Linked DNA regions of Homo sapiens. The protein of the gene in region 3 purifies or fractionates together with the protein of the main gene of each other region. This does not show direct contact. Each region holds a gene or a part of one and is shown on either strand. Other genes may lie near its edges.

The links.
Region 1: the proteins of HPRT1 (region 3) and PPAT fractionate together in Homo sapiens (co-fractionation; one large-scale study listed by BioGRID). This does not show direct contact.
Region 2: the proteins of HPRT1 (region 3) and MTAP fractionate together in Homo sapiens (co-fractionation; one large-scale study listed by BioGRID). This does not show direct contact.
Region 4: the proteins of HPRT1 (region 3) and PSAT1 fractionate together in Homo sapiens (co-fractionation; one large-scale study listed by BioGRID). This does not show direct contact.

The regions. Positions count from the first base shown.
Region 1 is NC_000004.12:56,394,797-56,397,807, forward strand, and holds part of PPAT (amidophosphoribosyltransferase), read right to left. Parts: intron 1,944-3,011; coding exon 1,823-1,943; intron 753-1,822; coding exon 556-752; 3' UTR 1-555. UniProt on the Homo sapiens protein: Catalyzes the formation of phosphoribosylamine from phosphoribosylpyrophosphate (PRPP) and glutamine.
Region 2 is NC_000009.12:21,815,752-21,819,885, reverse strand, and holds part of MTAP (S-methyl-5'-thioadenosine phosphorylase), read right to left. Parts: intron 3,173-4,134; coding exon 3,114-3,172; intron 1,852-3,113; coding exon 1,684-1,851; intron 1-1,683. UniProt on the Homo sapiens protein: Catalyzes the reversible phosphorylation of S-methyl-5'-thioadenosine (MTA) to adenine and 5-methylthioribose-1-phosphate. Involved in the breakdown of MTA, a major by-product of polyamine biosynthesis.
Region 3 is NC_000023.11:134,469,734-134,473,867, reverse strand, and holds part of HPRT1 (hypoxanthine-guanine phosphoribosyltransferase), read right to left. Parts: intron 510-4,134; coding exon 403-509; intron 1-402. UniProt on the Homo sapiens protein: Converts guanine to guanosine monophosphate, and hypoxanthine to inosine monophosphate. Transfers the 5-phosphoribosyl group from 5-phosphoribosylpyrophosphate onto the purine.
Region 4 is NC_000009.12:78,306,977-78,311,110, reverse strand, and holds part of PSAT1 (phosphoserine aminotransferase), read right to left. Parts: intron 2,698-4,134; coding exon 2,528-2,697; intron 1-2,527. UniProt on the Homo sapiens protein: Involved in L-serine biosynthesis via the phosphorylated pathway, a three-step pathway converting the glycolytic intermediate 3-phospho-D-glycerate into L-serine.

The DNA.
Region 1 (3,011 bases), on a different chromosome or scaffold from region 3:
ATTCTTATTAATTATTTAATAAGTATCCCATTGCACATGTGGGGAAACTGAGGCACCAGATTATTATTATTTTTTTTTAAAGATTTGTCTACAGTTAGACAGGGAAGCCAAGGTCATAACTACAGCCAGAACTGTAGAGGCTAGACACCTATGAGGTATAATGTATTCTATTCAAACTTTGTGTGAAATGGTATATTTAACTCACCTGTCTTGTTGGCATCACCTCTCCTTAACCCTAACTTCTTGCAAACCCTTTAAAGCATGGACTTGGGAAATGTCAGTGACCACCTGCCTTCTCTGACCAGGTTAAAAAGGCTAGCCAATGCTTGTGTAAAAAAAAGAACACCACATATTGTTGTATTATATGCAATTGGAAATGTTCAGTTATCGCACTTTGGTATCCTTTTCAGAAAAAAAAAAAATCTCAAAACTTATAAACATAAGCATGGCATTTTACATTGTACCAACTGAGTAACAGTAAATAGATGAGGTGTGACCACTATAACTTCTTGACCAACTTTCTATCTTGAAACTACACACATCCAACCCTACCAGCTACCATTCTAATTCTACAGGATATTTTCCAGTGAGACAAGCTGTACAATGACCACTCTTTTCAAAACATTCCAGACCATTTCCATTTTCTTGGATCATAATATCGTGCTTTTTCTCTTTCTGTTTTTTAAACTTTATCCCTTCTTGTACAGATGAAACCAGTCCTTCTACTGACAGATACACAACACTGTTTGCTCCTAAAGAAAGAGGGAAAAATAAAAATGTAATAAGAATTCCTTTAGAAAGGAAGAAACGCGTCAACAGAGAATAGTTACAAACAGAATAATTTAAGCTAGGATAAATTTCTCCTTTAGCCTTTCTTTAAAAAAAAAAAAAAGGAAAAAAAATCAATAAAACTCAGTTCCTTTATTTTTAAAAATTTTAATTGGAATCTAGGGGATAACATAATTTAAAACAGCAGAGGAGGCTTCAAGTCTAGAATGGAATTAGAGGGCTTTGGGAGTAATTTTCTTAATTGAAAAAATGGAATTTAAAGTCAGGAAGATCTAGGCTCAAAGTTAAGCTCAAGTTCACTCAGTTTTCCTAAGTCTATTTTTTCATCTATATAAGATGGTGGAAACATTGCCTAAATGTAGAGTTTTTATGATAATATAGATAATATAGGCAGCATAGTTTCTGGCAAAGTGTGAGTGCTTATAACATGTATGACACCCATCAGGGTGATATTTAAAAATATTTAACCAGTGAGGCATATGCATGACAGGTTAAAAGAAACACCAGCCACAAACAGATGGTGTGGAGGTACCAAGGCACAATGACTAAATATCATGTGTTATTTCCACAGTTTATACATCACCTGATTTTGAAAGGAAGATGTCTTACCCAGGATAACTTAGATCTCGAAGTCTCCTTATCTCATTATTGAATATGAACCTACACAAACTTTTTACCTTGTGATTTGTATCCACATCCAAATTACTCTGTTAGAATCTGATTAAATTATTTTTGTTTTTCTTGGGATCTGACTTTTGGGAGGCTTTAAGTGATTATGATTGCACTTCCCTCCACCTGGAAACCACCTCTTCCTTCTCTGATCTCACCTTGGCTTAGCTCTCCAACACAAGACTCTGTGGTGTCTGCCCATGCCCACTACTCTCACTGTTGAGAATAGTATTCAATATCTGTTTAACATATATAACTACTTTTAACAAACACTGAATACTCCTTTTTACTAAAGGTGTAAAGACTGTCAAGCTTTGGATTTTCTCTGTTAATAATCAAAGTTTATAGAAATTTTAATACTTACCTAGATATTCTGCAAGGTGATCAAATTCTGGTTTATTGGCAATGAGCTCTTCTTTTGTAGGAATGTTTATTCCCATGAAGCATGGATATTTAATTGGTGGTGAAGCTACTCGAATGTGTACCTTGGAAAGAAATCATTGCACACAAGGTTTTTAAGACTATGCAAAATTCTTTCATTGTGCAAATACAATACAAAATTGTTTTGCAGAATATTCAGTAACAACATATGGGTAATAAATTATTCTTTCTACAAAGCTGCTTCTTGGTTTTTTTTTTCTTTCACCTAATCATGAGGAAGTTTCTTTGTCTAGATATCCTACTTCTCATTTGATGTCTTTACATTCCTAGAGCCACTTTTCTCTTGTAATACCAGGTACTTCTGCTTATCCCTTATCTTACCATTTTAAAAAGAAAAATACAATTTACCAGGTTATAACAAAAACCTTACTACTACAACAGAGTTGTTTTTGTCTGTTATTGTTTTTTTTGCCTTTCATCAGGTACGTTTACATGGCTATACTCAGTGTCCACATTTCCTTTTTAAACTTTATTAGAATAGATTTTCCCATTTTTGCTACGCAGTCTTCTTAGTATTTAATGGCTGCATCATATTTCATCACACTGATATATCAATTTACTAAATTATATTCACCAACAGGGAGATATGCCATTTCCAGGTTCTTTGACTTTATTCTTTTTCACTATTGCAATAAATGATGAAATTATGTTAAACTCTTGTATCTATTACATAATTTCCACAGAATTCCAGAGTAAGATGATCATAATCCTAAACACAGGTATAAAAAAGGCTGGAAAATCATAATCCCAATTATCTTGGAAACTTTCTAAATAAACTGGCATGCTGCTTTTCATCCCACTTTCTTCTACAGTGAGATTTTATTTTTGATTTTTCAGAGATGGGGTATATGTTGCCCAGGCTGAGACTTTATTTTTAAATTTACATAACTATTAGTTGTAAATGGCATCTCACTTCTGTAGTATGAGCTACTGAAATAGAATAAGCTTTGAAATCTTAAAATAACTTAATATATCTATATAAAAACATGTACACAATAAATATATACATTTGTCAATTTAAAAAATAAAAATTAAAAAAAAATTTTTTTCAAGACATAAAGTGAGGCCGGGTATGGTGGCTCACACCTGTAATCAAGCACTTTGGGAGGCTG
Region 2 (4,134 bases), on a different chromosome or scaffold from region 3:
ATCAGAGAAATGCAAATCAAAACCACAATGAGATACCATCTCACACCAGTTAGAATGGTGATCATTAAAATGTCAGGAAACAACAGGTGCTGGAGAGGATGTGGAGAAATAGGAACACTTTTACACTGCTGGTGGGAAGGTGAACTAGTTCAACCATTGTGGAAGACAGTGTGGCGATTTCTCATGGATCTAGAACTAGAAATACCATTTGACCCAGCCATCCCATTACTGGGTATATACCCAAAGGATTATAAATCATGCTGCTATAAAGGCACATGCACACGTATGTTTATTGCGGCACTATTCACAATAGCAAAGACTTGGAACCAACCCAAATGTCCATCAATGATAGACTGGATTAAGAAAATGTGGCACATATACACCATGGAATACTACGCAGCCATAAAAAGGGATTAGTTCCTGTCCTTTGTAGGGACATGGATGAAGCTGGAAACCATCATTCTCAGCAAAGTATCCCAAGAACAAAAAACCAAACTCCGCATGTTCTGACTCATAGGTGGGAACTGAACAATGAGAACACTTGGACATAGGAAGGGGAACATCACACACCAGGGCCTCTTGTGGGGTTGGGGGAGTGGGGAGGGAAAGCATCAGGAGATATACCCAATGTAAATGACGAGTTAATGGGTGCAGCACACCAACATGGCACATGTACACATATGTAACAAACCTGCACGTTGTGCACATGTACCCTAGAACTTAAAAGTACAATTAAAAAAAAAAAAAAGAAAATGTGGTATATATACACAACAGAATACCATTTAGCCTTAAAAGAGAACGCAACTCTGTCAATTGCCACAACATGGGTGAACCTGGACATTATGTTAAGTGAAATAAACCAGCCATGGAAAGACAAATACTGCATGATCTCACCTATATGTGGAATCTAACTAAGTCAAACTCATAGAAGTAAAGAGTAGAAAGGTTACCAGGGGCTGGGGTTTGGGGAGACGTTGATCAAAGCACAAAATTTCAGTTAGACAGGAGGAATAAGTTTTTGAGATTATACTGCATGGTGATTATAGCTAATGACAACGTATTATGTATTTCAAAATTGTTAAAGTAAAAATCAAATGTTCTCACCACTAAAGATGATATGTGGGGTAATATGTTAATTAGCTTTGCTAATCATTGTACAATGCATACATATATCAAAATATAATGTTATACCTCATATATACATTTATCATTTGTCAATTAAAATTAAAAAACAAAAACTCACAATGAAAAGCTTAACACAGGCTGGGTGCAGTGGCTCACGCCTGTAATCCCAGCACTTTGCGCTTTGGGAGGCGGAGGCGGGTGATCTCCTGATTCAAGACCAGCCTGACCAATATGACGAAACTCCATCTCTACTAAAAATACAAAAATTAGCTGGGCATTGTGGCATGTGCCTGTAGTCCCAGCTACTCGGGAGGCTAAGACAGAAGCATTGCTTGAACCTGGGAGGCGGAGGTTTCAGTGAGCTGAGTTCATGCCACTGCACTCCAGCCTGGGAGACAGAGTGAGGCTCCGTCTCCAAAAAAAAAAAAAAAAAAAAAAAAAAAGCAAGCGAGTCTGTGGCACTGCCCTCCCAGTTGCCCTGCCGGTTCCCACGCGTCGTCCATTTGAGCTGAAAATGACCAGCTACAATAGCCTAAAGCATTTTGTATGACTGCTTACCTGTCAATGAACTGATCAATAATGACAATATCGCCGGGCTGAATCTCCTCCCTCAAGGAGCCACAAGCTGTGGTCACTATGACATGTGTACAGCCCTCTTCCTTCAAAGCCCAGATGTTCGCCTGGTAGTTGACCTTTGAAGGCATGATGGTGTGCTGCCTTCCATGCCTATGGAAGGAGAGAAGAAATTGTTAACCCGTGATGAGTACACCACCAACTGTTTTCTCCTAGAGTCTAGAAAAAATTAAGTGATTCTCTAGCAATGACCACAGACTAACACAGGGGGTCTCCTAGAACCCAGTCCAGTGAGCAACTAAAACTAAAATTTAGGTTCACTGGATTCTGAGAAGCCACTCCTGTTTCAAATATGTAGAGTGGCAGACAGACCCTAGTGAGGACCCCACTGTCATGCTCTGTATAAAGGATCAGTGAACCTGGGACTTGCATTCAGCCAATAGAAAAATGGTAAACGTGCTATAAGTCACTCCCACGATTAGGCTCTACCTTGCAAGCATGCATAGGAGATTCTCCTGCCGGACTCCTGCATGCTTGCAAGGTACAGCTTAACCATGGAGGTGACTTCTAGCACCTTTGCCATATCCTAATAGCAAGAAGCAAGCTGCAGTCAAGTGAACAGCCTGTGGAGCAGGCCACACGGCAGGGAATGTGAACCACCTCTAGGAGCCAAAGGCCTCCGCCCTGTAACTTCTAGGGAGTGAATTCTCCTACAACTACACGAGCTTGAACAAGGACCTCAAGCTCCAGATGGGGACTCAGTCCTTGAATATGCCTTGTGGGGCCTTGTGCAACCCCAAGCAGAGGACTGGCTAAGCTGTGCCAGACTTCTGACCAACAGGAACTAGGAGATGATGTGTGCTATTTTAAGCTGCTAAATTTGTGGTAATTTGTTACACAACAGTAGAGAACTCATACATATATCTTGACTAACTTCTAACAATGGGATAAAAATGACTTGGCCTCCTCTGTAATATGGAGCAGCACCAGCCTCCTTAAGGAAACAACAGCACAGACACAAGTAACCCACTTCAGAAGCCCTAAGCCTACTTCCCACAGACATATAACTACTACCAGCAAGAGGTCATTAATGATGCATTGTTTTTCTTTATCTTTATAAGAAGGGGGAAAAAAATGAACAAAACATTTCTTCTTGCAGTTAGAACTAAAACCAGAGCTTTGATTTTAGTCATCTGATCTACTTTCCCAATGTAAGGGGCAAGAGCATGAGATCTTTGATCTCCTAAGTCAATATAACTTAACCAAAAATAAAACATTGTAAATAAAGGTTACTAAGATGTTCTGATTCTGCCAACATATAAAAGCTCAGACCTGTATCTTTACTCTTTCCAGAATTTAAGTTAAATTTAAATTATCCTTTAGTAGTAACATCCAAAAAGCTTAAAATACCATACCTTGCAAGGAGGACGCAATCAACATTTTTTATCTTCCCCAAAATTAAGGCATCAGATGGCTGCATGCAATGAAAAAATGACATTTAACTCAGTGATTTAAAAACAGGTATGTAAATTATAATTGTTCAACCACAACAGGACTCATGGAATCTGAAGAGTCTGAGGATACAACTTAGAGAAGAGGCAAGATCTGATTATCAATATAATCATTTAATCAATTACTTATTGATCCCTCTGCAGGCATAGATTCACAGGACTCAAGGTTACCATGGGCACCTGTGTAGGTACCATTTAGTCAGATCTATTTGTAACGAGTACCCCAGGGAACTCTGATGGTAGACTGGTCAAATTTAGATGTGTCAAGGTTATTGGGCAGGTTTGAGAACAGGTGTGAAGGTGAAAGGCAGAAAGGATAACAAGCCACCATCATGACACTAAGAATTCAGCACTGGAAATGTCTGCTTGTGTTAACCAGGTCTAAGATGATCATGGAAATGACTTGAGGTAACAAAGGCTGGAAAGACCCTTAGAACCGAGGGGTTTAAGAAAATGAACCAGGATGACTGCAGGACTGGGAGCACACAAGGTCAACCTAAGAATTTAGCTGAAAAGGAGGGTTTGGTTGGGACAGCCAGATAGAGAGATCTTACAGATGGACCAGAGGACGTAGCAATATGGAATTAGGAGAATGCAGACACCCTCACCCCGGCCTAGGCTGAGTGACATGGGCTTGGAGAACAAGCAACCTCTCCTATAAAAGGAGGAGCATTTTATTTCTAGCTCAGTTACACATTCAACTAACATCAGGTATGTTCTAATTCCCCAAAACAATTCTTTCCACTCAAATGCCGCTTCGTAACAATAATTCATCCTATTAGTCATCAGCCTGTCCCCTAATTAGTGTGGTGTGACCTATTGGCCACAAATTAGAAGATTTGAATGTAGATTTGAAAAGTACAGTCTGAAATGAGTCTGTGGTCTGAAATGAGTATCTGATTTCCAGCAACAGAATGAGAAGTGA
Region 3 (4,134 bases):
CAATACCAGGTAAGGTTTTTCACTGTAATTGACTTAACAGAAAATTTTCAAGCTAGATGTGCATAATAATAAAAATCTGACCTTGCCTTCATGTGATTCAGCCCCAGTCCATTACCCTGTTTAGGACTGAGAAATGCAAGACTCTGGCTAGAGTTCCTTCTTCCATCTCCCTTCAATGTTTACTTTGTTCTGGTCCCTACAGAGTCCCACTATACCACAACTGATACTAAGTAATTAGTAAGGCCCTCCTCTTTTATTTTTAATAAAGAAGATTTTAGAAAGCATCAGTTATTTAATAAGTTGGCCTAGTTTATGTTCAAATAGCAAGTACTCAGAACAGCTGCTGATGTTTGAAATTAACACAAGAAAAAGTAAAAAACCTCATTTTAAGATCTTACTTACCTGTCCATAATTAGTCCATGAGGAATAAACACCCTTTCCAAATCCTCAGCATAATGATTAGGTATGCAAAATAAATCAAGGTCATAACCTGGTTCATCATCACTAATCTGAAAAAGAAATATAGCTGTTTCAATGAGAGCATTACAGGATACAAACATTTGATTGGATTAAGATGTTAAAAAATAACCTTAGTCTATCAGAGAAATTTAGGTGTAAGATGATATTAGTAACTGTTAACTTTGTAGGTATGATAATGAATTATGTAAGAAAACAACAGGCCGGGCGGGTTGGTTCACACGTGTAATCCCAGCACTTTGGGAGGCTGAGGCAGGCAGACTGCCTGAGCTCAGGAGTTCGAGACCAGCCTGGGCAACACGGTGAAATCCCGTCTCTACTAAAAATACAAAAAAATTAGCCGGGTGTGGTGACACATGCCTGTAGTCCCAGCTACTTGGGAGGCTGAGGCAGGAGAATCACTTGAACCTGGGAGGTGAAGGTTGCAGTGAGCCAAGAATGCGCCACTTCACTCCAGCCTGGGAAACAGAGCAAGACTCTGTCTCAAAAAAAACAAAACAAACAAACAAAAAAACAGGCTGGGCGCGGTGGCTCACGCCTGTAATCCCAGCACTTTGGGAGGCCGAGGCGGGTGGATCACCTGAGGTCAGGAGTTCCAGACCAGCCTTGTCAACATGGTGAAACCTCCCCCCGCCGTCTCTACTAAAAATACAAAAATTAGCCAGGCGTGGTGGCAGGAGCCTGTAATCCCAGCTACTTGGGAGGCTGAGGCAGGAGAATCGCTTGTACCCAGAAGGCAGAGGTTGCACTGAGCTGAGATGGCACCATTGCACTCCAGCCTGGGGGACAAGAGCGAGATTTCGTCTTTAAAAAACAAAAAACAAAACAAAAAACCATGTAACTATATGTCTTAGTCATCTTAGTCAAGAATGTAGAAGTAAAGTGATAAGATATGGAATTTCCTTTAGGTCACAAAGAGAAAAAGAAAAATTTTAAAGAGCTAAGACAAACGCAGCAAAATCTTTATATTTAATAATATTCTAAACATGGGTGATGAACATACGGGTATTCATTATACTATTCTCTCCACTTTTGAGTATGTTTGAAAATTTAGTAAAACAAGTTTTAACACACTGTAGTCTAACAAGATAAAATATCACACTGAACAGGAAAAACTGGCATGGTGTGGTGGCTCACACTTGTAATCCCAGTGCTTTGGGAGGCTGAGACAGGAGAGTTGCTTGAGGCCAGGAGTTCAAGACCGACATGGGGAATGTAGCAAGACCCCGTCCCTACAAAAAACTTTGTAAAAATTTGCCAGGTATGGTGGTGCATACCTGTAGTCCCAGCTACTCGGGAGGCGGAGGCAGAAGGAATCACTTGAGCCCAGGAGTTTGAGGCTGCAGTGAGCTACGATCATACCACAGCACTCCAGCGTGGACAACAGAGTAAGACCCTATCTCAAAAACAAAACAAAACAAAACAAACAAAAAAAACCACAAGAAAAACTGCTGGCTGATGCAGCGGCTCATGCCTGTAATCCCAGTATTTTGGGAGGCCCAGGTGGGCGTATCACCTGAGGTCAGGAGTTAGAGACCAGCCTGGCCAACATGGTGAAACCCCATCTCTACTAAAAATACAAAATTAGCCAGGCATGTGGCACGCGCCTGTAGTCCCAGTTACTGGGGAGGCTGAAGCAGGAGGATCACCTGAGCCCGGGAGGTGGAGGTTGCAGTGAGCCGAGATCACACCACTGCACTCCAGCCTGGGTGACACAGCAATACCCTACCTCAAAATAAAAAAGAAAAAGAAAAGAAAAGTTGCTGTCCCCGCTACCCCAATCCCAAATCCAAACAGCCTCTCTCATCTCACAGTAAGGGGGAAAAATCACCCAAAAAAGCTAAGTGATCTTTTGAAAACCCAAACTCTTAGAAGTCTAAGATTATTATAGTCAACTCATGAAGTGTCATCATAAAAGATACTCTAATATTATTTAAGTAGAACCACATATTGGTTGTCTTGGTATGTCTAGCCCCTGGCATACAAAATATTTAATAACACTGATATGGTACCTGTGATGTGAAAATGTACTATGAGTACAGCTTTATAAATACTATATATGTACCTATATACAGAAAAAAATACAACAAAATCATAAAAGCACTTATCTTTGAAAGAGGAGTTACAGCAATTTTATTTAGTTCTTTATTGCTTTGCTATATATTCTAAATTTTTTTCAATGAATATATATCACTTTTAAAAAAATTCAATGGTCTTTCTTATAAATTATCTTTGGCAGCATGCGTTTTTATATATACATATAAAATGTATGGGAAATTTTTAAAGGATACATTAAATTAAAGCAAAATATACAAACAAAAAATCAGAATACAAAAAGATAAAAAGATTGGGAAGGGAGGGAGGGAGTAAGGAGGAAGGGTGGGTGGGTATAGAGAAATATACCAAATAATGGTAAGAAGTGGGGTCTTGACACTTTCTACACTTTTTTTAAATAAAAAAAATTTTTTTCTCTCTCTTTTTTTTTTTTAGAGACGAAGTCTCGCTATGTTGCCCAGGCTGGTCTTGAACTCCTGGGATCAAGAGATCCTCCTGCCTCAGCCTCCCAAGGTGCTTGGATTACAGGTGTGAGCCACCACGCCTGGTCACTTTCTACACTTTAATATATATATTTTTTCATTTTCAATGTCATTTTTATTAGTTAATTTATAATACCCATTCACCATTATATTCAAAGTCTATTTGAAGAAATAAACCAGAAAGAATGAAATACTCTAGCTCACATGCTATTCAATACTAAATTACCTTTCAAATCACATTCAAGAAGCTGATGATTTAAGCTTTGGCGGTTTCCAATAAATATTGGTCAAACCATAATTAAATCTCAATATATCAGTTAGTACCTATTGAGCATCTCCTTTTACAACCTAAGCATTGTATTAGGTGCTTAAATACAAGCAGCTTGACTTTTAATACATTTAAAAATACATATTTAAGACTTAAAATCTTATTTATGGAATTCAGTTATATTTTGAGGTTTCCAGTGCTGAGAAATTTGAGGTTTGTGCTGTCTTTCAGTCCCCAAAGCTCAGTTCTGAGTTCTCAGACTTTGGTGGAACTTCATGTATTGTCAGGTTGGCCCGTAATACCTGTGGGACAACTTCAGCCCCTGTGCACATGGCCAGGAGGCTGGTTGCAAACATTTTCAGGTAGGTGGACCAGGACATGCCCCTGGTCATGGCCAGGTGGAGGCATAGTGCTATACAGCAGGCAGAAGTCAATATTGATTTGTTTTTAAAGAAACATGTACTACTTTCATAAGCAGAAAAAATTTCTATTCTTGGGGGAAAAGATTATGCCAGATCCTCTAGGATTAAATGCTGATGCATCTGCTAAACCTTCACATATCAGAACATATTTACTATAGAAAGAATGAAAATGGGACATTTGTGTGTCACCTATGTGAACATTCCAAAAATATTTTACAACAACTAAGTATTTTATAAATTTTATGAACTGAAATTTAGTTCAAGTTCTAGGAAAATACAAACCTTGCTAGATATTATAAAAATGATACAATATATATTCATTTCAGGCTCATCAGAATATATCTGTTATCACTTGACAAGAATGAAAATGCACCATTTTGTAGTGCTTTAAAATCAGGAAGATCCAGAGTACTAAAAATGACTTCTTCCT
Region 4 (4,134 bases), on a different chromosome or scaffold from region 3:
AGCCCCACTCCCATCCCTACCATGCATTTTAGAAACATTTCAACCAAGGTAAAAGACAGTAGGGTTTAGAGGTGACCAGGAGAGTGCATCCCAGAACACTCCCCTGAGGAAAGTGGGAGACACAATGTGAGGAGCTGCTGCTCTGCATCGTGTGACCAAGCAGAAACCCAGCAGAATTTTCACCAGAATTCTAACATTGAAAAAAATTCCGGCGGTGGCTCACGCCTGTAATCCCAACACTCTGGGAGGCCGAGGCAGGTGGATCACCTGAGGTCAGGAGTTTGAGAGCAGCCTGGCCAACATGGTGGAACCCCGTCTCTACTAAAAATACGAAAAGTAGCCAGGCATGGTGGCAGGCGTCTGTACTCCCAGCTACTCGGGAGGCTGAGACAGAATTGCTTGAACCCGGGAGGCGGAGGTTGCAGCGAGCTGAGATCACGCCACTGCACTCCAGCCTGGGCAACAGAGCAAGATTCTGTCAAAAAAAAAAAAAATTCTTTCCTTTCCATAGTAAATTATGTAGAAGACATTTTCCCTAAGCAGCACCTGGAGGAGGGGAAGCTCTGACAAAATCCTGGCCCAGATGGAACCACTAACTGCACCAGCCTGAGCCCCCTCTTTCCTACGCTCCTTTAAGAGAACTTCCACCAAGACAAGAAAATCCTGTTGAGAGAAGAGCTGGACTCCAACAGTGAACTATTCTCCTAAGGCAGAATCCTGCAAACACACGCAAATCCACACTCATCCTTTTGCTGGTGAAGAGAGAGCACTAATGGCAGAATGTACATACCCAGGATCTAGAGTCAGATGGCCTGGGTTCACACCCCAGCCAGGCCACTTCCTAAAATATGACCTCGGCTTCCTCACTTGCAAAATGGGAATCATGATCATAACACTGGCTACCTACTAGGGTAGTTGGGAGGATTAAACGGTCATACACATAAAGCATCACCATTCTGCATCATAGTGGCCCTAGAAAGATAAATCTACAAACTCCAGCTCTTCCCTTGTGTCTGCTCCTGCTGAGGCTCTGAGAACTCACAATAACAATAACAACATAGCAGCTAATATTTATCAATCACCAAGTGCCAGGTACTCAGTGCAAAATTTAAAATTTTTATATATATACACAGATTTATTTATATGTATGTTAATCTTCACAGCAACCCAGTGAAAGGGGTACTATTATTACTTCTAGAACCTACCACACAGACATGTTAAGTGACTTGCCTAAGGTCACACAGCTAGTAAATACTAGACTCTCTTAGGCAATTGTAAATCTTAAGAGCCATGAAGATTTTCTCAAAATACCCAAGTTTGGGAGTTATAGGATCCTGAGGCAGGGCAACCCTGCTCTTCCTGAAGTGCTGCAACGCAGCCCCCAGTCAGCGAATGAGAGCCAGGCTAAAAGGACCCCTTCAGATTAGGCTAAAATACAGAAAGATGTTGGCCGGTTGTGGTGGCTCATGCCTGTAATCCCAACGCTTTAGAAGGCCAAAGCCGGCGGATAACCTGAGGTCAGGAGTTCAAGAGCAGCCTGACCAACATGGTGAAACTCCATCTCTACTAAAAATACAAAAATTAGCTGGGCGTAGTGGCACGCACCTGTAATCCCAGCTACTCGGGAGGCTGAGGCAGGAGAATCGCTTGAACCTGGGAGGTGGAGGTTGCAGTGAGCCGAGATCATGCCACTGCACTCCAGGCTGGCAACAGAGCGAGACTCCGTCTCAAAAAACAACAACAACAAAACCCAGAAAGGTATTTAAGCCAGTATGTTCTGTCAGGCAGCCAGCTTCCCGCAGGCCCGACAGAGAAAGAAATGAAGGCAGGGGAGGCCCAGCTTTTGAAAGTTCTTCTCCAAAGCTGCACTGGCTGTTTGAGATGCAGGCCACAGCACCTCATGTATAGAGAGCTTTTGGGTTAATGGTGAACCACCGGATCCTGGATTACCAAGACCAAACAAAAAACAACATCCCCAGAAAAGAACAAGAGGAAAAGCTGATCAAATGGTAAAGAGATGGTGCAGAGGGAGAGGTGAGCTGGGCAGAGAATCTGATAGGATATCTGGGGCATTTGATCACCGGCTCCTGGAAACATGCTTTACTTTATTTTACTTATTATTTGTTTGTTTGTTTGCTTATTTATTTATTTATTTTGAGATGGAGTCTCCCTCTGTCACCCAGGCTGGAGTGCAATGGTGCCATCTCGGCTCACTGCAATCTCCACCTCCCCGGTTCAAGAGATTCTCCTGCCTCAGCCTCCTTAGTAGCTGGGATTATAGGCATGTGCCACCACGCCTGGATAATTTTGTATTTTTGGTAAAGACAGGGTTTCACCATGTTGGTCAGGCTAGTCTCTAGCTCCTGACCTCAAGTGGTCCATCCACCTCAGCCTCCCAAATTGCTAAGATTACAGGTGTGAGCCACCGCGCCCAGGCTTACATGTTTTATTTTAAAATGTAACCTCCGCTTTGATGAAAAATAGTGAGACCCCTCCCTGGGTCCACAAGACTGACTCCCAGAGTTACCTGAAACATGGAGGCGTGTTGTACAAGGAGCTGTTTCCAGCCTGCACCTTGTATTCCAGGACCGAGGGGCACTCTCGGAGGGCAAACCCCAGCAGGTCATCACGGACAATCACCACGGTGACCCCAGCAGAGCCAACATTCTTCTGGGCACCAGCAAAAATCACACCAAACTTAAAAAGAGAAAGACATGCTGCTTAAGAAGGATTTGGCCATTTTTCATACATGTATGCAAACTTCCCAACTCTTCCCGAAGCACAATTTTTTTAAGGAAATGACTCTATCCTGTGTAGGGAGCAGTTCATGCTCTAAAGCAATCTCCATGTGGACAGCAAACCCATACTCAGAGTTCCAAAGCCTGAGGATGATCCGTCAGCCTGGTCCTCACCTGGATGGGGCTAACCCAAGCCCATCACTGCAAAGTCCTGGCACATATTCACATTCGCTCTGCACACCTCCTTTCTACCCCCAAAGTAGAAAGGAGTCTTTAACGTGGGGCCTCTAACTCTCCCTGGTTACCAAGAGAAGAAACATTTTTTTTTTCTTTTGAGACGGAGTCTTGCTCTGGCACCCAGGCTGGAGTGCAGTGGCGCAATCTCGGCTCACTGCAACCTCTGCCTCCCGGGTTCAAGCAATTTTCCTGCCTCAGCCTGCCGAGTAGCTGGGATTACAGCGTGTGCCACCATGCCCAGTGAATTTTTGTATTTTTAGTAAAGACGGGGTTTCACCATGTTGGCCAGGCTGGTCTTGAACTCCTGATCTCATGATCCACCCTCCTCGGCCTCCCAAAGTGCTGGGATTACAGGCCTGAGCCACTGCGCCTGGCCAAAACAGATTTTTTAATCTATTTACATTTGTATAAAAGAACAGTCAGAAGGTGCTGAGAAAGGGACTGTTATGACAAAGAGAAGGGATGGGACAAGCTGCCTGAGGGAGAAGAAATTATAGAAAACAGAGGCTTAAAGGTACTTTAGGTAATTCTGTTGTGCAAGATACAGAACCCTCTCCCATGCCTCTCTCCATGAAACCCTTAGGAAAATTGAGCGTTGGCAGGAAGTTGGGGGTGGGGGAAAGTAATTTATAGTTATTTAAAATTGCCAGTGCCTGGTGATAATAAAAAGCAGACCATAAACCAAATACAGTATATCTAAACAATTATTATTCAGCCTTTAAAAAGAAAGGAAGCTCTGACACACAGTACAACATGGACGAACCTTGAAGACATTCTGCTAAGTGCAATAGAACCTTGAAGACATTCTGCTAAGTGCAATAAGCCAGACACAAAAGGACAAATAGTACATGATTCACTTCTAGGAGATACCTAGAGTAGTCAAATTCACAGAGACAGAAACTAGAATGGAGGCTGCCAGGGGCTGGACGGTGGGGAGAGAGGGAGTTAGTGTTTAATGTACAGATTTCATCTGAGAAGATGTAAAAGTTCTGGAGATGGATGGTGGTGATGCCTGCACAACAATGTGAATGCTCTCAATGCCACTGACCAGTATATTTAAAAATGGTTAAAATGGTATATTTTATATTAAATGGTAAAATTTGTTATATTTTATCCCAATTAAAAAGGCAGAATACCACTCAGTCAGTTCAACTGTTGT